Homo sapiens: one gene and its partners. The protein of the gene in region 2 purifies or fractionates together with the protein of the main gene of each other region. This does not show direct contact. Each region holds a gene or a part of one and is shown on either strand. Other genes may lie near its edges.

Region 1 (3,500 bases), on a different chromosome or scaffold from region 2:
GTCAGGTTTTATATTATTTCATATTCAGACTGCTGTCAAGAAACCAATTATAGTACCTGACAGATCCCACTAAAATTTAATTTTTGAAAAGATGTTTCAAAAGACCAAACGCTTCACTTAATTAGAAAATGTTTGGAAACAACCTAGTCTCCCTGTATTGCCTTGTTTTCCTAATAAATTGTCTGTAAGTGATTTTTCTATTAATCTGTTTAAAAGCAGAATTTATTTTTGAGCTTTAGGGAAATATGTCTCATTTCAACTTGCTCTTCATTTTGATAATGGACATGCTTTGCTTCTTCAACAACAGGACAATAGCATCTTTAATTTTTTTATTTTGCATTTGCGTACCGAAAACGTTTTAGTTGTCATTTTTATTTATGTATTTTATTCATAAATGCATCTGTTTCTATACTTTTGTATTAGATTCTGAGGCAACAGAAGAATAGTGATAGTGTTCCAGAGTTGCTTGCTCCTTCTGCCAACTCATGTTAATCTGAGGTTTACAATTCAGCTTTCCTCCAAGGAATTTTGACACTTTTGCATATTCTGCTGTATGGAAATGTAAACTTCCAGAGTTATTGTCTGGAAACTGAATTTCCTATTTTAACCTTATTTCGTTCACACTGCTGCTTGGATTGCAAACCACATGTTTTAGTCTTTATAAAATGTTTGTATCTTCTTGCAAGGATCGCACTTCAGCAATATCTTTGTCATTCTGAAAGTAATGTTTCCGAATGTAATGGTGAAGAATGGTAAGTGGAATCATTACTTCCAGAAGATCACTTACATATTTACTTCATGTTTGTATTCTCATTTGAGCACCTATTCTCCTTTGGAGCACTACATGTGTTCATATATATTTCAGATATCTCATCTTGGCGACTTGAGAAGGGAGTTCATGGTTTTTCTGTCACTTTTTATATATACATTGAACATGCATCTCCATCTACATTTTATTTTAATTCTTTTGGACCTTGATGAATTCTAGATCCAGGTTGGAAAAAATATGGACCTAGCCATGCAAGATCCATTTCTTAACTGCTTTGCTCTCATTTGCCATTGCTGCTGCTTATCTTCCATCCCCTATTGGTAATCAAATCGCATGTTTATAATCAAGATTCTTTCTTCTCTGTGACATTTGTTCTGTGATATAAATGCCATTGGTTTTCATCCAGACTGTGATCTGCCTTCTGGTTCTCACGGAGTAGTACACATGGCCATTACCAGACTCCCTCAAGTGCCAGAAGCAATCAAATATTTTGAATTTTCTCTTATTTTTCTCATTAGGGTGCGGCATAGATGCCAAGCAAGTTGAGGAACAATCTGCAGCTGCAAATGAAGAAGTACTTTTTCCTTTCTGTAGGGAACCAAGTTATTTTGAAATCCCTACAAAAGAATTCCAGCAACCATCACAAATAACAGAAAGCACTATTCATGAAATCCCAACAAAAGACACGCCAAGTTCCCATATAACAGGTGCAGGGCATGCTTCATTTACCATTGAATTTGATGACAGTACCCCAGGGAAGGTAACTATTAGAGACCATGTGACAAAGTTTACTTCTGATCAGCGCCACAAGTCCAAGAAGTCTTCTCCTGGAACTCAAGACTTGCTGGGGATTCAAACAGGAATGATGGCACCCGAAAACAAAGTTGCTGACTGGCTAGCACAAAACAACCCTCCTCAAATGCTATGGGAAAGAACAGAAGAGGATTCTAAAAGCATTAAAAGTGATGTTCCAGTGTACTTGAAAAGGTTGAAAGGTAAAGTGATTTGATCATTCAGAACTTCCTACTTTACGATAAAGAAAATCTGGTCTTCATTTACTAGACTACTAGTAGATACTTACATGGTAGAAAACATTCTGCTTTTTTCAAAGGTTATATTTAGTCTTAAAACTAAACAGGAAGCTACACTGCCCATGTCCAATTTCCTCATTCAAAATAGTCTTCCTTCATTTTCTTGACAAAACCAGATTGGTTTTATGAGCTTATATTTATGCTATAAAACATGTTTCTTTTTCTTCTAGAAATATAAGATTTATTAAGTTTACCAGTAGAGTTCCCTAGAAGATGAGTTCCATCATTTTCTTGATTTAAGGAAAAGATATATTCAATTCTGTTCTCTATTGAGATCAATATCTAGATTCTGAAAGAAATTTTAAGTCATTTGGTCTGAGCCAAAAGTTCTACTTTGGTAATGCAGTCACATCATTGATGGAGCGCTTCAAAGTATTCTCAGTGGTTACTCATAAAACAAAGATTTTTGGTTTAGAAATATTTGGTAGGATCTATTAATCCAGTTTTAAAATTTTTTTTAATATTAGGACTTCATGAAAATTAGAGTTGAATGTTCATTTTTGAAATAGTTATATATACTTTATTTGTGTAGAACTTAGCCAAAATTAGTACAATTTGTATGTTTGTACACTGATGTATCAGCTGATCAGTTTTTTCTCATTGGTTTTGCCAATTAAATTTATTTTAGAATTGAGTATAGATTTATGTTACCCTATCTTTTATTTAATAAGCTATCTATAAGGAAAACGATTTTGAACAAATTGTGATTACACGTTTAGCTGACCATTCTGTTACTATATTAGGAGTTTTTGTACTCCTAACACTTCATCTAGTACTTGAGCATGTGATAGGTACTAATTTGAAAACAATGGGCGATTTCTCTGTCAATGACAAGACTGTCCCTGATTTAATCTGTACCTTATGTCCTGGCATTCTGATCAAGTAATGAAGAAATAGTATTTGTATACTTATTTCTGATTTGCTTCTAAGACATTTCCGGACAGTGAGATGATGTGATTACCTAATTATTTGTTGGAGCCTATCACAATATTTAATTATAGTTATCAGCAGTTACCTGGCATATGTATTTTTGAGACATGATTGTGACATTTTACTTCTAGACAATACGTAATTGAGACATTTTGTTTCTGTAGGTTAACACTCACAAACACATAGGCTGTTTATATGAATTGGATAAATAATATTGATCTCCTAGTACAGTATAAGAGGTAGCTGAACCTTGAGAATTTAGAAATAACTTAGACTTTTTAAAACCACTCTTAATAAACAAAAACTGAGGTAAAATATCCTTTTAAAAGGTAATCATTTTAAAAATACCTTTATTAAACCCATTTATAACTTAGTCATTATAACTATTTTCTATATTGACTATTATTATTACTACTATTTTTTTTTTTTTTTTTTGGAGACAGAGTCTCGCTTTGTCACTCAGGCTGGAGTGCAGTGGCGCGATCTCGGCTCACTGCAAGCTCCGCCTCCTGGGTTCACGCGATTCTCCTGCCTCAGCCTCCCGAGTAGCTGGAACTACAGGCGCCCACCACCACACCCGGCTAATTTTTTTTATTTTTAGTAGAGACGGGGTTTCACCGTGTTAGCCAGGATGGTCTTGATCTCCTGACCTCGTGATCCACCCACCTTAGCCTCCCAAAGTGCTGGGGTTACAGGCGTGAGCCACCGCG
Region 2 (3,500 bases):
CTCTGCCCAACAAAATGCAAGCCTGGTGTGGTTTCCCGAAGGATTCAAAGCCTTTACTGATGGCTGCTGGTCAGCAGGCGATCTCCACTCTCTCATTATAGCCAGTGAGTCCTTCAGATGATGTTTTCTTCTCGAGTCTACTCTCCAGCCCCTCTTACCCATCCTCCCCCACCCCATTATTCTACTGTGGTTTTCTTCTACTAAACCATCAACCACCTAATAAAATTCTGATGCCACAGATCAGGCAAGGGGTCACTTTGTAATGCACCTTTAAACATGACATGTCTCTCCGCCAGAGCTTCCCAAAGTGGCACTTTGAAATGTCCCTCCCTAGTATGAAAGTTTCACAAATCACACTAGAATTTTATGTTGTCTTAAAACATCCAACGCAAGTACTATCTCTTCTCTTTCTCATCATAATATTTAGACCACAGAGGAGAAGACAGACTTGCAAAACTGAATGTGGTTTTGTAATATACTACTGGGATTATGATTCAACGATCAGTAGGGGGAAAAACTAGCAAACAGCAGCCTCCAAATACCAGTTTCCCAAACAGATGAATAAAGGTGGTCAGAGCATGCCGGGCGCGGTGGCTCACGCCTGGAATCCCAGCACTTTGGGAGGCCGAAGCGGGTGGATCACGAGGTCAGGAGATCGAGACCATCCTGGCTAACACGGTGAAACCCCGTCTCTACTAAAAATACAAAAAAAATTAGCCGGGCTTGGTTGTGGGTGCCTGTAGTCCCAGCTACTCGGGAGGCTGAGGCAGGAGAATGGCGTGAACCCGGGAGGTGGAGCTTGCAGTGAGCCGAGATCGCACCACTGCACTCCAGCCTGGGCGACAGAGCGAGACTCCGTCTCAAAAAAAAAAAAAAAAAAAAAAAGGTGGTCAGAGGAGATTGAAATTCAGATGAACAGCCCAAACAAAGGAACTCCATCATGAAAAACAGGCAAATGGCCGACTCTACTGGAGAACATAAAGCAAGAAAGGTGAATACACGCAGAAAGCTGCCTTTCCTGACAGCATGTTATACAATTTCTGACGGAGGAACTAAAATTAGCTACAGTCAGTAGCAGGGAAATGTTTTACACCACTGTGAGCTCTAGAACATCAGCAGCGATGGAACATTTTGCCTCCAACCAGTAAGCCTCCCTCCACGAGGTTCTGGAGAATCCAGACAATGAAAACAACGGAAAGAACCAAAGGCCAGGCTGAAAAGCCAGGCTCCAGCAAAACCTCCTGTTGACTGCCATCCTGGCACTGAAATCCTTCCTTTCAAACCTATGCAAATGTCCTGAAGAGAGTAATGAAATGTTCATTTCTCTCTGCATGGATCTGCTGTTCTCCGGAATCTTTTGCTTGAGCAAATGCCACTGCTGGCAGAACAGCAAGAAGAGGTCTTTCCAGAATCCCCAAGAAGACCTCAGAAAAGTCTTACTCAACAGATAAACATAGAAGTCTATTCTAAAGCTCCAACCCCCTAAAAAAAGAAGAGAGAAAGAAAACCACATGGAGTGTAACGATGCCTGCAGCAGCAGGCTATAGAAGAAAGTCATGGGTTTTTAGCCATAACTATGTAAATATAAGCAAAGTGGCTGAGTGTTTCACGCTTCGGTTAGCTCTACTGTAAAATTTAGGCATAAACATTCTGCTCTGCCTCCTTTGGTGGGTCCTTGTGAAAATCAAATGAGATCACGGGATGTGGCTGTGTTCTGAACGGCAGAGCCCGTGCGCTGTCCAGGGCAGCGACACAGGGCGGGCGTTAAGGACCGGCCTTTGGCATCAACGGCTCATGGGTTCTAGCTGTGCTCCCAATCGTTCCTCCCTCAGACACGCTGCTCTACCCACGCCAGCCGCAGATCCATATATATATATTTTTTTTTCTTTTTTTTTTTTTTTAAGACAGGATCTCGCTCTGTCACCCAGGCTGGAGTGCAATGGTGCAACCAGGGCTCAATGAAGCCTTGAACTCCTGGGCTCAAGGGGATGCTCCTGCCTCAGCCTTCCAAGTGGCTGGGACTACGGGCACATGCCACCACACCCGGTTAACTTTTTTTATTTTTTGTAGAAGTGTGGTCTCACTATGTTGCCCAGGCTGGTCTCCAATTTCCGGGCTCAAGTGATCCTCCCACTTCAGCCTTCCAGTGCAGGGATTACAGACGTGAGCCACCACACCCAGCCAGATTCCTCACTTTTAAAAACGGGATGATGACGATACCCAGGCTGACAGGGTTACTCTAATTATAATTAAACAAGTCAACTGTATCATACCAGGCATGGCAGCTCATGCCCGTAATCCCAGCACTTTGGGAGGCTGAGGCGAGCAGATCACTTGAGCCCAGGAGTTCTAGACCAACCTGGGCAGCAAGGCAGAACCCTATTTCTATTAACAACAACAACAAACAACAACAACAACAGTCAACTGTACCCAAGCACTGAGCATGGTTCCCAGGGCACAATAAATTTGCAAAACATAGTAGTTCTTGTGACTGCACTCTGGCAAGGACCAAACAGGGACTGGCACGTGTAAGAGTCCAAAACGCATTTGCTGAATAAAGCACCGAAGACAAGCTTATCCTGTTTGACAGATTATAATCTTCCTGTGGCCAAGGTCTATTCTCACATTCCACTTACGCTCCTAGCATAAATGCACACTAGGACCTATGCTAAGTGAAATAAGCCAGTCACAAAACAACAAGCACTATGATTCCACTCATAGGAGGTACCTAGAATAGCCAAATTCACTGAGATAGAAAATAGGCAGGAGGTTGCCAGGGGCTGGGGTGGAGGAGGGAAAAGAGGACTTAGTGTTTAATGCAGACAGAGTTTCAGTTTCGCAAGATGAAAAACGTTCTGGAGGTGGATGCTGGTGATGGCTGCGACAACATTAATGCACTGAATGCTACTAAACTGTGTACCTAAAAATGGCTAAAATGGTAAATTTTATGTTAATGTATTTTACCACAATTTTTAAAAGTGAAAAAAAAAAGAAAGTTGGCATTCAGGGAAAATGAGATTAGACTTAGTGGCTGATAATTCACAAACAACAGTCCTTTGAGTCAACTCTAATTCCAACGCTGGTCGGAGCCAGTGTTGGGGGTGGCACCTACTGGAGGACATCCCATTTGGCAGCGTGTAAAGAGCACAGGGAAGAATCCCTGAACTATTTGCTAGAGCTGAACTGCAGTTTCCCAGGATGGGGACTCTGCTTTTTATTTTTAATATCTGCAAGCAGTAACACTGACTCAGAATTTATATTTCCTAATTACAATTGATTTCCACAAAATTCAATGGAGATCATCAGGAAGAGAGGAGAAGATGAAGTAATGTTGGCGAACGAGAGGAGCCATCCTTTTACTCTGGAAGAATGGAAGAACCAACTGGATCTGTTCCTCCCCCTGTGACTCTGCCTGGGCCAACTCCTGTCATTATGTAGCCAAGTCCCTGGAGAATTGGAAATGGCTCAGTCATCTGGCCTAATTAGAACCTGTACTAGAT
Region 3 (3,500 bases), on a different chromosome or scaffold from region 2:
ATTCAAAAATAGGCAAAGGATTTGAATAGACATTTATCCAAAGAAGACAAATGGCCAATAAGAACAAAAAGGGTGCTTGGCATCACTAACCATTAGGGAAATGCAAGCCAAAACTACAAAGATATACCCACTAGAATGACTACTATCAAAAAAATCAGAAAATAGGCTGGGCGCAGTGGCTCATGCCTGTAATCACAGCACTTTGGCAGGCCGAGGCAGACAGATCACCTGAGGTCAGGAGTTCGAACCCAGCCTGGACAACATGGTTGAACCCTGTCTCTACAAAAAATACAAAAGTTAGCTGGGTGTGGTGGCTCACGCCTGTAATCCCAGCACTTTGGGAGGCTGAGATGGGCAGAGGTCAGGAGTTTGAGACCAGACTGGCCAACATGGTGAAACCCCGTATCTACTAAAAATACAAAATTTAGCTGGGCGTGGTGGCTCACACCTGTAATCTAGGCTACTTGGGAGGCTGAGGCAGGAGAATTGCTTGAACCCGGGAGGTGGACGTTGTAGTGAGCTGAGATTGCTCCAGTGCACTCCAGCCTGGGCAACAGAATTATTCCATTTCAAAAAAAAAAAAAAATCAGAAAATAACAAGTATTGGCAAGGATTTAATAAAACTGGAACCCTTGTACACTGATGGTGGGAATGTAAAATACTATGGCCTGTATGGAAAACTGTATGGTGATTCCACCAAAAAAAGTTAAACATAAGAATTACCATATGATCCAGAAATTCTACTTCTGGAAGGCAGTTCAGCAGCTTTCTACAGAACTAAACATACTCTGACCTTATGATCCAGCAATCACACTCCTGGGTATTTACCCAAAGGAGTTAAAAACTTCCTTCCGTACAAAAACCTGCACATGAATGCTAACAGCATCTTTATTTGTAATTGCCAAAACCTGGAAACAACCAAGATGTCCTTCAGTAGGTGAATGACTAAGTAATTTGTAGTATGTCCAGACAATGGAATGTTATTCAGTGCTAAAAAGAAATGAGTTATCAAGCCTTGAAGACATGGAGGAAGCTTAAATGTACGTTACTAAATGAAAGAAACCTATCTAAGAAGGCTACATCCTGCAGGATTCCAACCCTATGACATTCTGGAAAAGGTAAAACTATGGAGACAGTGAAAAAACCAATGGATGCTAGGGGTTGGGGGGAGGGAGGGGTGAGTAGGCAGAACACAGATGACTTTTAGGGCAGGGAAACTACTCTCTCTGATGCTACAATGGAGGGTACATGTCATTATACATTTCTCCAAACCCACAGAACGTACAACACCAAGAGTGAGCCCTCATGTAAACTGTAGACTCCAGGTAATAATGATGTGCCAATATAGGATCATCAATTATACAAAGGCACCCTCTGGTGAGGGAGTGTGAATAGTGAAGAAGGCCATGCATGTGTGGGGGTGGGGGGGAGGGGAGTATATGGGAGATCTCTATACCTTCCACTAAAACTCGCTGTGAACCTGAAAGTGCTCTAAAAAAAACAGTCTTTTTTTTAAAAAGGATGTTTGATAGCATTAGTCCTTAGGGAAACATAAATTAAAGCCACAGTAAGATTCTACTGTCTCCCTTTTACAGCAGCTAAAATTAAAGACTGACCCTGAGGTCATAAGGGTCATAAGGATGTGGTGCTTTAATCCACCACTGGTTGAGAATAGAAAATGGTACCACCACTTTGGAAAACTGCCTTACCATTTCTTAAAAGGATAAACATGCCTACCAGATGATCCAGCTACTCCATTCCTAGGTATTTTACCCAAGAGAAATGAAAACATATGTTTATATGAAATCTTGCTGACAAATGTTCACTTTTATGAACACTTTTTATTGGCAAAGCCACATTTTGAAAACAATCCCAAAATCCATGAATAGGGGAATAGAAAAACAAACTGTGATCTATCCATATCATGAATACTTCTCAGCAATAAAAATAAATGATTAATTCATGTTACAACATGAATCAGTCTCAAAAATAGTAACCTAAGTCAGACAAAAACAGTACACACTGTCAAATTCTATCACACGTCTGTTGTCCAGCAACTTGTGGGGCTGATGCACATCTCTTGGGCCCAGGAGTTCCATCTTTTTTTTTAAAGAGAAAAAAAATCTACGAAACGCAAACTGACATATAGTGATAGAAAACAGACCACTGGGCCGGGCATGAAGGCTTACACCTGTAATCCCAGCACTTTGGGAGGCCGAGGTGGGCGGGTCATGAGGTCGGGAGATCAAGACCATCCTGGCTAACACGGTGAAACCCCGTCTCTACTAAAAATACAAACAATTAGCCGGGTGTGGTGGTGGGCACCTGTAGTCCCAGCTACTGGGGAGGCTGAGGCAGGAGAATGGCGTGAACCCGGGAGGCGGAGGTTGCAGTGAGCCGAGATCACGCCACTGCATTCCAGCCTGGGTGACACAGCAAGACTCCATCTCAAAAAGAAAAAAACAGACCACCGGTTCCACGGAGAAAGGAGAGGGCACAGGAAGCTCTTCCTGGTGTTTGGGATGTTCGTGATCTTGATTGTGCTGAGGATTTTACAGGTACAGAACAACTTATCAAACTGGGTGGACAAAGCAAAGAGGAATGAAAGAGGCAACACATTAATAATGTATTATTTCCTCAATTGTCTGTAAGCTACAGAAAATCTGGGGTATACCTGAAGTATATGATGTTTATTGTACATCGGTTATGCCTCACTAATGCTTTATAGGAGTGAGAGAGGGAGTAGGTGGAGGCAGATGAAGGAGGAAGACAAAGCAGAAGGTATTCTTTTTCTTCTTTTTGAAAATAGTTTTAAATACCCCTTTTAAAAAGAATCACCTTTTGAAATTAAACTTTCCAGAATATACTTTAACATGTTGTTATTTCACTTTTGATAATGTTCCCTATCTTCTATCTTCAGATAGATTTTAACATGTTATTTCACTTTTGGTAACGTTATCTATCTCCTGTCTTCAGGCAGATTTTCACAAGTTATTTCACTGTTGATAACATTACCCATCTTCCATCCTCAAGACAGATCTTCACATCTGTCTACCTCCTATCTATCTTCCATCTTCTGTATAAATTCTGACCCCAGTTCAAGATTAGGTCATTTCAATTTAGTCTGAAACTTAAATTGTTTATTTTGAACCATTTTACTTCCTACCATTAGGATTCTCACTCCCTCAATGTATAATGCCTTTTTATCTTTTGTAAAAATCTGTTTTAATGATGAGCATTCCTTTCCTTTGCCATCTTAAATTCAATGGACTCTAACATGACTCCAGTTTATCCCAATGTTCTGCCATTCCCAAGTCACTAACCAGTTACTGGTGAATTAACAAGGGGGATGTAATCAAATTACATTGCTGAATACTGGCCTTCCTCAGATTTAGAAAACTGCTCATGTAGACGGGAAATTCACTTTATGCAAATTCAAGATGGCAAATTTATATTTACAAGAAACAAGCATGGCTTAATTTTTGTACCTTTATAAATAC
Region 4 (3,500 bases), on a different chromosome or scaffold from region 2:
ATTTCTCACACATGTATAATGAAAAAATGGAAGTCCAAGGTCCTTCCAGATCTAAAATTCTACAATGTTATGAAACTAAATCATAATAGCAGCAATCCCTATTACTCCTGAAACCCCACCTCAACCTCACATGCAGCCCCTTTATACTGAGGGAATGATATGCCCGACCTGTTAAAACAGGATGCTTTTTATACCTTGGCTGCAGTCTTAATATCCGTGATGTTTATAAACCACTGCTTGCTGGCACGAATAACCACAGGTTTCTTGGTCCTCCAGTCATACGGATAGCTATGCACCAATTTCTCCTCTTTCAACAAATTCTTTGCAGTCTGAAGCATCTTTATAACTTTAAAAAAAAAAACACCAAATTAGACATAATTAAAAAGTACTGTGAAAATCCTAAAAATGCTCTAAACTTCCAGAAAATACTAAATCTGCAGCAACAGGTGGCAATAAGAGTAGTCACCTTGCCAGCCACAGTGGCTCACACCTGTAATCCCAGCACTTTGCGAGGCTGAGGCAGGCAAATCACGAGGTCAGGAGTTCGAGACCAGCCTGACCAACATGGTGAAACCTCGTCTCTACTAAAAATGCAAAAATCAGCCGGGCATGGTGGTGTGTGCCCATAATCCCAGCTACTCAGGAGGCTGAGGCAGGAGAATCGCTTGAACCTGGGAGGCAGAGGTTGCAGTGAGCCGAGATCGTGCCACTGCACTCCAGCCTGGGTGACAGAGCGAGACTCCGTCTCAAAAAATAAAAGAGTAGTCAACTTGGCTGGGCGTGGTTGCTCACGCCTGTAATCCCAACAGTTTGGGAGGCAGAGACGAGAGGATCACTTGAGGTCAGGAATTCAAGACCAGCCTGGCCTGCATGGTGAAACCCCATCTCTATTAAAAATACAAAAAAATTAGCAGGGCACAGTGGTGTGAGCCTGTAATCCCAGCTACTTGGGAGGCTGAGGTGGGAGAATCATTTGAACCTAAGCTAAAGCGGAGGCTGTAGTGAACCGAGATTGTGCCACTGCACTCCAGCCTGGGCAACAAAGCGAGACTCTGTCTCACAAAAAAAAATAAAATAAAAAAGAGTAGTCACCTTCCAGGTATCAAAGGCGTGCTCTGGGATTCTCCTGGCAAAAAAAAGCACGGACTGTAAAATCTTAATCAGACTCCAAATTATGCCACTTCTACCTCTTTTCACGTCAAAGAAAAGATGAACAGATTATATCTAGAATTCTACATTTGAAGTTTAGATCCATAATCTTTCATGCCATGAATCTTAAAATGGTCTCCAGGTAATCTGGAGGAAACCAGGTGTAGTGGGTTGAACTGTGTCCCCAAGAAGATCTAACCCCCAGCACTAGTGAATGTGACCTTACTTGGGAATCAGGCCTCTGCAGATGTAATCAAGTTTAGATGAGGTCACACTGCATTAGGGAGCACTGGTGTTCTTAGAGGAGGATAGAAAGAAGATTATGTTTTTGCCACTGATTCAGCCATGTGAAACTCATCTCATTACCCTTTTCTGGGTTTGAAGCTGCTGTCTCTAAAAGTGCCATCTCATTGTGCTTAATATCAGTTAATGCTAGAGAAATCTTAAATAGCTTATGTACAAAACTTTTTTAAATTTTTGTATTATTTTGAAACTTTGCTTCTTTGGGTGGCACCCTGGCCACCCAGTTTGACTGTGACAGCCCTCTACAGTCTGTGAGCTGGCAGATTTTTTTTTTTTTTTTGAGATGGACTCTCGCTCTGTTGCCCAGGATGGAGTGCAGTGGTGCAGTCTCAGCTCACTGCAACCTCTGCCTCCCAGGTTCAAGTGATTCTCCTGCCTCACCCTCCAGAGTAGCTGGGATTACAGGCACCTACCACCACACCTGGCTAATTTTTTGTATTTTTAGTAGACACAGGGTTTCACCATGTTGGCCAGGCAGGTCTCGAACTCCTGACCTCGTGATATGTCCGCTTCAGCCTCCCAAAGCGCTGGGATTACAGGGGTGAGCCACCGTGCCTGGCCGGGCTGGCAGTTTGCTGATCTTTTAAAGTTTCTTTCCCTACCCAATCCCCACTTTCCGATAAGGTTTCTGTAAAGTCTGTCAGGTGTACATCCTGCAGCATACTGGCTTAAAACGTACTGTCCTTTGATATAGTCTCTTTGGGGCCGATTGGGAGAAACAGAAATCAATAGTCCACCTGCTTTGATACTGAATATTGACAAGTGTCTTTTTGAAATAAAGAACCAGTCCCTCCAATAAAAAAAAAAAAAAAAAAAAAAAAAAGAGGATTCACAGAGAGACATTTAAGACCTAAAGAAGGTGGCTGGGTACGGTGGCTCACACCTATAATCCCAACACTTTGGGAGGCCTAGGCAGGTGGATCACTTGGGGCTGGGAGTTTGAGACCAGCCTGGCCAACATGGTGAAACCCTGTCTCTATTAAAAATAAAAAATAGGCCGGGTGCGGTGGCTCATGCCTGTAAACCCAGCATTTTGGGAGGCCAAGGCAGGTGGATCACGAGGTCAGGAGATCGAGACCGTCCTGGCTAATATGGTGAAACCCCATCTCTACTAAAAATACAAAAAATTAGCTGGGCATGGTGGCAGGCGCCTGTAGTCCCAGCTACTCGAGAGACTGAGGCAGGAGAACCCATGAACCCAGGAGGCAGAGCTTGCAGTGAGCCAAGATCGTGCCACTGTACTCCAGCCTGGGCAACAGAGCGAGACTCCGTCTTAAAAAAAAAATAAAAATAAAATAAAAAATAAAAAAATTATGGCCTGACACAGTGAGGGCTCACGCCTGTAATTCCAGCACTTTGGGAGGCTAAGGTGGGCAGATCACCTGAGGTCAGGAGTTCAAGACCAGCCTGGCCAACATGGTGAAACCCCATCTCTACTAAAAATACAAAAATTAGCCAGGAGTAGTGGTGTGTATCCTGTAATCCCAGCTACTTGGGAGGCTGAGGCAAGAGAATTGCTTGAACCCAGGAGGCAGAGGTTGCAGTGAGCTGAGATCACACCACTGCACTCCAGCCTGGGCAACAGAGTGAGACTGTGTCTCAAAAAAAAAAAAATTAGCTGGGTGTGGTGGTGTATGCCTGTAATCCCATCTGCTCAGGAGGCTAAGGCACAAGAATCACTTGAACCCAGGACACAGAGGTGGCAGTGAGCTGAAAGCATGCCACTGCACATCAACCTGAGTGAGAAAGTGAGATTGTCTCGAAAAAACAAGTAAGATCTAAAGAAGGCCATGTGACAAGACAGGCAGAGAGTGGAGTAACGCAGTTATAAACCAAGGAATGCCAAGGATTTCCAGGAGCCACCAAAAGCTAGAAAGAGGCAAGTAAGGATTCTCCCATAAAACCTTCAGGAAAACATGGTCCTGCCAGTACGATGAATTTAGACTTCTAGCTTCCAGCACTTGAGAGAATAAATTTCTGTTGTTTCAAACTACCAAGTTTACGGTGATTTTTTACAGTAGCCCTAGAAAAGTAATATATCAGGTCTA
Region 5 (3,500 bases), on a different chromosome or scaffold from region 2:
TCCTGCTATGCAAGTTCTAGACATGTGTGTGACCTTTGCTTTCCAGGGACTCACACCCCCAATGCCCAGAAGAAAAGAAACAGATACAAGGACATAATCTACAACTGCCAAATACACAGGCAGGATTTCTGTGTTCAGCTGTGGCCATGACCTAGGACTAGGTGATTCCATATCCCAACCCAGGGGAAAGGGACTTGGAGCTGGGGCAGCGGCTCCATTAGGAACCAGGTCCTTGGGCTTCCATGCCTCTGGCTGCCTTCTCACCTCGCACCCCAGCAGGGCTGACAGCTCCTGGGCTTTGCTGTGTTGTAAGATGTTCCCAGCATTTGTAACAAAAACCACGGGCACCCGCAGCTGCCCCTGGGAGTTCACCAGCCTTCGGAAGGCTTTCAGAGCAGCAGGGATCACTCTGTGGCCCCGCACAAGCACTCCATCGATGTCCAACAGGAACCCAAAGGTGGGTGGGCTCTGCAGAGATGGTAAGATAATTACCAGTACGTGAGTAACAAAGAAACAACCCTTACAAAGAGAGGCTCAACACCATCCTCGGGTCACTCATGTCCCTTGAAAACCTATGTCAGAAAGAACAAAAAAATGAAGATGGGATTCTGATAGGGCAATCTTTAAATAGAAAATAGAGAAATCCAAAGAAAATATAATCCCAACACTTATTTTTAATCATTCGCTTTTACAGAGTCTTCCCGTTGCCCAGACTGGAGTACAGTGGCATGATCACGGCTCACTGCAGCCTTGACCCACTGGGCTCAAGGGATCCTCTCGCCTCAGCTTCCTAAATTTAATGCTAGGATTATTAGGCGTGAGCCACCGAGTCCAGCCTAATCCCAACACTTTAAAACAACCAATTAATAGTTCCCCTTTTTTCTCTATTCTCATATTTGTCTTGTAGCTACAAATGAACTATATGCCATTTTACATCATCTCGTTCTTTTTTGCTTGACATATCATAAATATTTTTATGGATTACAATAGTCTTTATAACCATCTTTTAAGATTTTATTATAGCAAAAAGTTAAAAACAAAATAACCTCAATCACTACAGACAATATAAAAATGTTTCAAAAGTTTCTTGTCTCCAACTTACTTAGTCCTATTCCTGTCCTGCATAATTTCCAGAAGGCTTTTATAAATCTATAGTATACACACCTTTCTAATGTTAACACACACATAGAATCATGTTGACTTTGTTTTCCATCTTACTTTTTTAGTTGGTATCTCTTGGCTGTCTTTTTTTTTTTTTTGAGACAGAGTCTTGCTCTGTCGCCGAGACTGGAGTGCAGCAGCGTTATCTCAGCTCACCGCAACCTCTGCCTCCCACGTTCAAGTGATTCTTCTGCCTCACTCTCCCGAATAGCTGGGATTACAGGTGCACCCCACCATGCCCACCTAATATTTGTATTTTTAGTGGAGACGAGGTTATGCCATGTTGACCAGGCTGGTCTTGAACTCCTGACCTTAGGTGATTCACCCACCTTGGCCTCTCAAAGTGCTAGGATTACAGGCTTGAGCCACTGCACCCTGCCCTATCATTCCATATTAATTATGCATAGCTCTATTTCCTAAACATCATTTCTGGCTACATACTATTCTGAGTGAATAATTCACTAATATTGTTCTCTATATTTTGGACAGTTAGGTTTTTCCACAATTTTGCTATGAAAAATAATGCTACAAGGAACCTCTTCAGGAATACTGATTTTTTTCCCATATTATGGGTATTTCCTTGAGCTAGATTCTTAAAAATAGGAGTAATAAATCAGAGAGAGCAAATGTAATTACATAAACACCAACTGACAAACTGCTGTTCAAAAACATGTCCACTGGCAACGTACTTTACCCTTACAATATTGATTTTCACAACTGTTAATTATCAAACTTTTTTATAATTTAAAGGTAAAAAAATTATCTCTTTTCTATCTGCATTTCCTGGATTTATAAAGCTGAATGCTGTTTTTAAAAATCATTCCATTTCTCATTTTATAAACTGCCTGTTAACATACAAGATGTTCTTCAATCATCAAAAAAACCTAACCTAACTTGTTTGCTATTTTTCTTTGTTGGTGCCAACTAGGTCAAGTCATTCTTACTGACACACCTACTCTACGCACAGAGCTCCCTTTATAGAGCAACCAGAAACAGAAATGGCGCTACAGGCCAGGTGTGGTGGCTCACGCCTGTAATCCCAGCACTTTGGGAGGCTCAAGAGGGTGGATCACTTGAGGTCAGGAGTTCAAGACCAGCCTGGCCAACATGGTGAAACCTCGCCTCTACTAAAAATACAAAAATTAGCTGGGTGTGGTGGTGGGCGCCTGTCATCCCAGCTACTCGGGAGGCTGAGGCAGGAGAATCACTTGAACCTGGGAGGCAGAGGATGCAGTGAGCCGGGATCGTGCCACTGCACTTAAGCCTGGGCGACAAAGCTAGACTCTACTAAAAAAAAAAAAAAAAAAAAAAAAAGAAGAAGAAAGAAAGAAGAGAAGAGAAGAGAAAAGGCGCTCCAGTACCTACTTTTTAGCTAAGGTGACAGAGCAAGCAACCAGCCTAGAAAGCAAACTCTAAAACAGCAGCATTTTTGCAAGTGCAAATCAATTCTAGGTAAGTTCTAAATAAATAAACAGAATTAAACAAAGGCAGTTTCTTCAAAGAGAATTTTGAGCCAGACAATGAAAGTGTTAAATACATCCTGTAACAAAACTCTTTGCACCCCCCAGTCACCCCCAGACTAGATGAGTGGTTCCTGCCTGCCTACCTGGTTCAATGAGAAGACAATTAGACAGGCAGCCCCAGGACAGTCTACAGGGAGCCTTGCACTAAGAGATAGGCCCACACCAGAGGAACCTGACCCACAGGGGTGGGGAAGATTGGCCATCACAGGTCTCCGAGGCCAATTTAAGGAGTTTGAAAATGGAAAGTGGTATCATCAGACCTGAACTATAGAAAAAAATTTGGCTGCAGAGAAAAGACTGCATTGGGTGGACTGAAGGGAGTTAACTGAAAGACCAGGTGGGACCAAATGCAACCCAAGACAGAGAAGATGGAGCATTTACCTGGGAGAGTGGTGGTAAGAATGGAGATCAGGGGGCATTATCAGAGACAGAACAGTCATGACTTGGTAACCATCCAGATACAGGGGTGGAGGGAAGAGGGAGCCACACGGACTCCCATGCTTTTTTATTTTGGTCTGGGAACCCGGGAGGGTGGATGCGGGTATGAGTCACTGAACCAAAGGGCACAGTAGGAGCGGGCAGCGAGAGGTCATTGGAGGATACAAGGTTAAGTCCCACTTTGGACCTGGGAGACAGGCAAGTGGAGACATCAGCACTGGACAGGTCCTGGAGATGAAAATTTTGGAAGGTCTCGCCTCTCAGAGAACCAGGAAGAACAATACTACTTAATAATGGACCACACAAGACCTGCCAGCAAAAGACAGTGCAAGGAGGAAAACCAAGAGCGTGTGGGGTCCAGGAAGCTGAGGTATGTCT
Region 6 (3,500 bases), on a different chromosome or scaffold from region 2:
GAACTACAGTTGAGCCTTCAACAAGGTGAGAATTAGGGGCATGGATAGCCCAGAGTTGAAAATCTGTGTATAACTTGACTCCTCAAAATTTTAACTACTAATAGCACACTGGTGATCAGAAGCTTTACCAATAATATAACCAATCATTTAACTATTTGTAGGTTATATACTGTATTCTTACAATAAAGCTAAAGAAAATAAGAAAATCATTTGCAAAATACATTTTCAGTATTGTATATGTTTATGCTGTCTGTTTAAAAGACAAATCGTCTCTCTGAAATGACAGGTAACCACAGCTGCACACCTCAACCTATGGTACAGATCAAGCAATTTAATATTTCCTTGTAATGTCATAACTTTTCTGTTTCTTGGGAGTGCTTTCAGCATCATTAGTGATATTTCGTATGGGTCCCATGGTGTTATTCAAGGCTTTCAGTATTGTACTAAACATGATGAAAACTACTCATTGAAGAGAAATCACTTTTTACTGCATCCAAATTTACTGGAGAGAAGAACTGCTCACATAAAGATGATTAGCATCACACAGTGTTGTAAGCAGATACTTGCAACACAAGCACATTGCAATATTTACAGGAGGTGGCTAGGAAAAAAATTATAGTACAGTATATACTAAAGTTCATTTTATGCAGTTATAACTTAATACTGTATCTTTACATTTGTTTACATTTCTCTTGACTGCAAATGGTGCCCTGAATGGTCTCAAAGTGTTTGTGTGGGTTCATTTTGATAAATTTTAACTCTGTAATAAATCTGTAATAGACTTGTGTATATTTTACAGTAGTAAATAACAGTATCCACATATATTTTATGCATTCATGAAATACCTTTTTCTTAATTTTTTTTATTATTTCTAGGCTATTCAGTTTGTGAGCTTTTTCAAATTGTTACAAATCTCCAAAAAAAATTTTCCAATATATTCATTGAAAAAAATCTGCTCAAGTGGACCTGAGCAGTTCATACCCACGTTTGTTCATGGTTCAACTGTACTACATTAACTTTCAAATTTTCCACTTGATCCCAAGTTTCCAGATTGCAAAGCAACTTCAAAGAAACTCCCCATCAATAATTGTGCTGAAGTTAACAGAAAAATGTTAAGGGTCTAAAGAACTATGAGCATTATCAGCCAGGCGCGGTGGCTCACACCTGTAATCCCAGCACTTTAGGAAGCCAAGGTGGGCGATCATGAGGCCAGGAGATAGAGACCATCCTGGCTAATGCGGTAAAACCCCGTCTCTACTAAAAATACAAAAAAACTGGCCAGGCATGGTGGTGGGCGCCTGTAGTCCCAGCAACTCAGGAGGCTGAGGCAGGAGAACAGAGTGAACCCGGGAGGCGGAGCTCTTGCAATGAGCCAAGATCGCACCACCGCACTCCAGCCTAGGCGAATGAGCAAGACTCCATCAGCTAGCGGCGGAGGGGGAAATAACTATGAGCATTATCCTCCAATTTTTAACAGACGGGCAGGGAAACATAAAGGCAGCCCATACTCCACCTGCATTTTTAATGGCAAAGCTCACTCCAACAAAATAAAAAGTAGCCAAATGCCTTCATAGCCCATTTTCAGTGCCAGTTTTATAGTAAGAAAATATAATATCATATAATAAAAGATTAGTAGAATGTATATAAACCTGCATACAAATCACTAAAAGAGTAACCCAAGAGAAAAACAGGCAAATGAAATGGAGCAGCCAATTCTCAGGAAAGTACTAAATGGACAGCAAACAAAACAGAGTAAGTAACCAGGAAAATGCAATTAATAAAATCACTTCTCACAGGAGATACCTTACAAGAGATGCGCCAAAGTATTAAAATCTCAGTCAACACCAAACATTGGCAACCAAGTAAAAAAAAGAGCCTACAGGACTGCTGAAGATGAAGTCTCAACTGGTACAACCACAGTGGAGAACAATTTTGCACTATCTAATAAAATCAAAAACACTCTGATGAAAATCTAGCAGTTCTCTTCTAGGTACATATACAAAAGAAACTCACCCAAGACAAAACAAACTCACACAAGACAAAAACAAATAACTGCCACCCTATCTGTAAAGTATAACATTGATAACAATCTACATGTCCATCAAATAAGGAATGGATATTAAGTTGTGGTTTATTCACATTAGGGAAACTTCTATACCTAAGACAACCATATGAGAGCACTTTTAAGATTGAAAACAACTACTATTAATAGTGTCAGGTTAACTGAAGTGAATCAGGACTGTCCCTGGCAAACCAAGACATATGTCACCCTATTTATGCCTGCCAGAAAGCGAGCACATAACTCAAAAACATTATTAAAAAGAAAAATCAGTTGCCAAATATGTACTGTGTGATAACGTTACATATATTTAAAAGTGTTTTTAGTATACACAAATACCAGATACCGTACATAGATACACAGGCTAGACATAAAGAGACAAATGGATCCATGAAACAGAATGGAGTTCACTAACATATCCACATGGACAACTATATTTCCAAGAAAAGTGCAAAGACAATTCAGTGGAAAAAGTATACTCTCTTCAACAACTGGTACTGAAACAATTAGATATCATATGGAAAAAACAAAAAAAAACCAGAACCTCAATTCATGTCTCACACCACATACAAAATTTAACTCAAAATGATTCAGTGTAATCAAAGTGTAAAACCCAAAACTGAACTTCTAAAGAAAACTTGCATGACACTAAGCAAAGATTTTAGACACACCAAAAGCAAATGAAGAAGAAAGCGAATTGATCACGTAGACTGCCTCAAAATTAAAACCATCTGCCCTGCAAAGACACCATCAAAAGAATGAAAAGGCACGCAGGCAAGCCACAGATTAGGAGTAAATATTTGCAAGGCATTTACCTGATTGATTGACTGACTGATTTTTTTTTTTTTAGAAGGAATCTTCCACTGTCGCCCAGGCTGGAGTGCAGTGGCGCTCACCGCAACCTCCACCTCCCAGGTTCAAGCAATTCTCATGCCTCAGTTTCTCAAGCAGCTGGGATTACAAGCACACACCACCACGCCCGACTAATTTTTGTATTTTTAGTAGAGATGAGGGTTCACCATGTTGCCCAGGCTGGTCTCGAACCCCTGGCCTCAAGTGATCCACCTGCCTCGGCCTCCCAAAGTGCTGGGATTACAGGTGTGAGCCACTGCGCCTGACCCATATCTCTAATTTTTAAAATACCTCTATCCAGAATATATAAAGTACTCTCATGCCTGTAATCCCAGCACTTTGGGAGGCCGAGGAGGGCATATCACCCGAAGTCAGTAGTTCGAGACTAGCTTGGCCAACATGGTGAAACCCCATCTCTACTAAAAATACAAAAATTAGCCGGGTGTGGTGGTGGATACCTGTAATCCCAGCTACTCAGGAGGCTGAGACAGGAGAATCACCTAAACCCAGGAGGCAGAGGTTGTAGTGAGCAGAGATGGCGCCACTGCACTCCAGCCCGGGCAACAAGAGCGAAACACTGTCTCAAAAC
Region 7 (3,500 bases), on a different chromosome or scaffold from region 2:
CCTCGAACTCCTGGGCTCAAGTGATCCTCCTACCTTAGCCTCTTGAGGAGTTAGGACTGTAGGCATGTGCCACTAAGCCAGGCTAATTAAAACAATTTTTTTTTTTTTGTAGAGACAGGATATTGATATGTTGTCCAGGCTGATCTTGAACTCCTGGCCTCAAGCAATCCTCCTACCTCAGCCTCCCAAATTGCTGGGATTACAGGAGTAAGCTACAGTGCCTGACCAATAATTTGCATTTCTTAGGGGTTCTCTGGTGATGTCACTGCAGCTGGCTTGGGCACCAGACTTTGAGAACGACTATTTTAGCCAAACTCAGTTCCTGTAGGTAGACACTCCAGATATTTTTAAAAGACTTGGCAAGCATTTTTTTTTTTTTTTGAGACAGGGTCTCATTTTGTTGCTGAGGCTGGAGTGCAGTGGCAAGAACACAGCTCACTGCAGCCTCATCCTCCTGGGCTCAAGCAATTCTTCTGCCTCACCTCCCAAGTAGCTGGGACTACAGGTGTGTGCCACTAGGCCTGGCTAGTTTTTTCTTTTTTTTTTTTTTTGTAATTTTGTAGAGATGGGGTTTCCCCATGTTGCCCATGCTAGTTTCTAACGCTTGAGATCAAGTGGTTCCTGCACCTTGGCCTCCCAAATTGCTGGGATTCCAGGCATGAGCCACCATGCGCCCAGCCCTTGGCAAGCATTTTTTTTTTTCTGATTCCCTATTTGGTTTTTGTGTTTTTTCCTTTATGGAAATATAATTTACCTGCAGTAAATCTCTTTTTTCCCTGCAGTAAATCTTAAATGTGCAGTTAGATCTATTTTGACAAATGCATACATGTGTTACCATTGTTCAAATCAAGATAAAGAATTTCCCTTTCTCCAGAAAATTCCTTCATGCTCCTTATTAGTCAGTCCCCGCCCCCACGACCGCTCATGCTGGTTTCTATCACTATAGATTCATTTTGCCTGCTGACTCCTTCTGTTTTTCAAATTAAAACATCCTTTTATTTGTCTGGGTCAAATTCATGCACATGAATGTTATTATTTTGAAAATGTCATTGTGTTGTGCCTTAAAAGAAATTAAATCTGAAAACTTTCTTTTGCAGAAGAGGAAAAGAAATCCAAGAAACCTCGTAAGTTATGCATTTCTGCAACTGTTCGTTTCTTGAGACTGCCCGAGCACAGAACTAAATGCTGGTAGTGAGAGTCGACCTCTCTCATCAGGGTTCTGTGATGGGTTCTATATGATTCCATTCTGTAATGGCAGCAGGCCTGAGGCTGGAGGGGAGGACAAGCATAAGTGAGATGAATAAGGTGACTTTAGCCTTGTCTGTTTTCCCCTGTGTTGTCCTGCTGTTCAGGCGTGTGTTTGTAGAAGTGGCTCTTAATCAGTGTGGAAGGGAGTAGAGGCCATCCCGTTGCTCTGTATCATATTTCCCTTTCCTTACCCCCAGCCCCTGTCCCTGCCTTACCCAGCAAGCTTCCCACGTTTGGAGCCCCGGAACAGTTAGTGGATTTAAAACAAGCTGGCTTGGAGGGTAAGTTATCATGGGCAAGGAGCTTTGGGGTGTCCACTCTGAGTTTGTTCTGCAAATCACTCTCTGTTTCCTCTCCCAGCTGCAGCCAAAGCCACCAGCTCACATCCGAACTCAACATCTCTCAAGGCCAAGGTGCTGGAGACCTTCCTGGCCAAGTCCAGACCTGAGCTCCTGGAGTGTGAGTAGCTTCGGGGCTGGTGCGCGGTTCCACTGGTTCTGTCTCTCCTGCGCCGCTCTGTGCAGCTCTCTGTGAGGCCAGCTGGCCGGCTATATCAGCCACTCCCCTTCACTTGTCCTCTACTTTGTTGCTCCCTTATTTTCTCCCAGTCATCAGTGCCTTTCTTTACTTTTCCTAACTAGCTCAGATTTCACAATCGGTCCTTTGACTCTCCCTCTTGCCGTCTAGTCTGGCCCAATTGAGCTCACCTTTCTCTGTGGGTCGGCGCCTGCATGTCCTCTGCAGAGAAGGCAGGGCGATTGCGGTCACCGGCCTTCACCGGGCGTCCCGTTGCCGGCATGCCTGCCCTGCATCTCCTGTCTCCTCCCCACCACTCTCCAGAGCCACCATTCCCAAGACTTCCCACTGGCCATAGCTCCATCCTTCTCCCTGTCCCGCCCACCTTCTGCTTCACGAAAAAGACAGACACTGTAGAAGGGGCTCCCCCTGCTCTGTTATTGACATCGCATCTGCATCTACTGTGCCCCCTTCCTCGCCTCCTGGCCCCTTTCCCAAGACCCCCTGGCCCTGGGCTCTGGAGTCTGCTCCCCACACGCTCTCTGGAATCTTCTGCTCTCTCTTAGGCCTTTCCATTCCCATCTCTTCACCCTCAGCATCTCTACCTAGGCTTGCCTATCTGTAGCACGTTTACATCTCTCCAAATCACAAAAACAAACCTAGCAAAACTGTCTCAGCTGCAGCTCTGTTTCCTGCCTCCCTTTCACCCGAATGCTTGTTAAAAATACAAATTACTAGCTGGGTGCGGTGGCTCATGCCTGTAATCCCAGCACTTTGGGAGCCCGAGGCAGGTGGATCACCTGAGGTCAGGAGTTCAAGACCAGCCTGGCCAACATGGCAAAACCCCATCTCTACTAAAAATACAAAAAATTAGCCGGGCGTGGTGGCACATGCCTATAATCCCAGCTACTTGGGAGGCTGAGGCACGAGAATCACTTGAACTTGGGAGGTGGAGGTTGCAGTGAGCCGAGATTGTGCCACTGCACTCCAGTCTGGGCAACAGAGCGAGACTCTGTCTTAAAAAACAAACAAACAAACAAAAAACCCCAAAAACCAAATTCCTGGGCCCTGTTCTAGCCCTACAAGATCAGACTCAGGCAAGCACGGAAAGCTGTATGTTTAGCTCATTTCCTCCATGATCCTTTTGAGGACAGTTGGGGAAAAGCAGCTCTGCAGATTTTCTACATTGGTGGCTCTCAACTGTGGCTGCGTGTTGGAATCCTGGGGAGCTTTTTAAAATCCCCGATGCCCAGGCTGTCCCCCAGACTGGTTCATTCAGAATGTTGGTGTTTGGCTGCCCAGGGTTGCAATGTGGGGCCGAGGTGGGAGCCTGAAGTCTAATCCTCGTGCCACTGCATTCTGACCTCTGTCCTGCCCTTGACCCAGGCAGCTCTGAGGTCATCAGGGTACTCCGTGTCACAAAATCCAGGGACGCCTTTCAGCTTTTATTTAGCTTCACCTGTCAGTGGCATTCCTCCTCCTTCTGACACTCTCTCCCCTTGCCGCTTGAGCTGCTATACCCCCCTGGGTTTCCATCCACCCCTCCTTTGCAAGCTCGTCCAACCTGGAAGTGGGTGGAGTTCCGTTGTCAAGGCCAGGCCTAGGGCCCTCCCACTTTCCGTCTTCTTGTTTCTTCTGCACCCACGTGCAACACTCCAGGCAGCACCTGCCAGTGGTACCCACTTCCATGTGGAGGCCAAAGCCAATCACTGAAAAATATAGCCCTTCCTTTATCA

The links.
Region 1: the proteins of IRF2 (region 2) and CEP170 purify together in Homo sapiens (affinity purification with mass spectrometry; one large-scale study listed by BioGRID and IntAct). This does not show direct contact.
Region 3: the proteins of IRF2 (region 2) and LARP4B purify together in Homo sapiens (affinity purification with mass spectrometry; one large-scale study listed by BioGRID and IntAct). This does not show direct contact.
Region 4: the proteins of IRF2 (region 2) and IARS2 purify together in Homo sapiens (affinity purification with mass spectrometry; one large-scale study listed by BioGRID and IntAct). This does not show direct contact.
Region 5: the proteins of IRF2 (region 2) and HDHD5 purify together in Homo sapiens (affinity purification with mass spectrometry; one large-scale study listed by BioGRID and IntAct). This does not show direct contact.
Region 6: the proteins of IRF2 (region 2) and G3BP1 purify together in Homo sapiens (affinity purification with mass spectrometry; one large-scale study listed by BioGRID and IntAct). This does not show direct contact.
Region 7: the proteins of IRF2 (region 2) and TRIM25 purify together in Homo sapiens (affinity purification with mass spectrometry; one large-scale study listed by BioGRID and IntAct). This does not show direct contact.

Annotation. Positions count from the first base shown.
Region 1 is NC_000001.11:243,189,282-243,192,781, reverse strand, and holds part of CEP170 (centrosomal protein of 170 kDa), read left to right. Parts: intron 1-1,287; coding exon 1,288-1,764; intron 1,765-3,500.
Region 2 is NC_000004.12:184,394,551-184,398,050, forward strand, and holds part of IRF2 (interferon regulatory factor 2), read right to left. Parts: intron 1-3,500. UniProt on the Homo sapiens protein: Specifically binds to the upstream regulatory region of type I IFN and IFN-inducible MHC class I genes (the interferon consensus sequence (ICS)) and represses those genes. Also acts as an activator for several genes including H4 and IL7.
Region 3 is NC_000010.11:858,706-862,205, forward strand, and holds part of LARP4B (la-related protein 4B), read right to left. Parts: intron 1-3,500. UniProt on the Homo sapiens protein: Stimulates mRNA translation.
Region 4 is NC_000001.11:220,107,632-220,111,131, reverse strand, and holds part of IARS2 (isoleucine--tRNA ligase, mitochondrial precursor), read right to left. Parts: intron 347-3,500; coding exon 195-346; intron 1-194.
Region 5 is NC_000022.11:17,149,278-17,152,777, forward strand, and holds part of HDHD5 (haloacid dehalogenase-like hydrolase domain-containing 5 isoform 2 precursor), read right to left. Parts: intron 469-3,500; coding exon 265-468; intron 1-264.
Region 6 is NC_000005.10:151,778,454-151,781,953, reverse strand, and holds part of G3BP1 (ras GTPase-activating protein-binding protein 1), read right to left. Parts: intron 1-3,500. UniProt on the Homo sapiens protein: Protein involved in various processes, such as stress granule formation and innate immunity. Plays an essential role in stress granule formation.
Region 7 is NC_000017.11:56,893,550-56,897,049, reverse strand, and holds part of TRIM25 (E3 ubiquitin/ISG15 ligase TRIM25), read left to right. Parts: intron 1-1,097; coding exon 1,098-1,124; intron 1,125-1,445; coding exon 1,446-1,529; intron 1,530-1,608; coding exon 1,609-1,707; intron 1,708-3,500.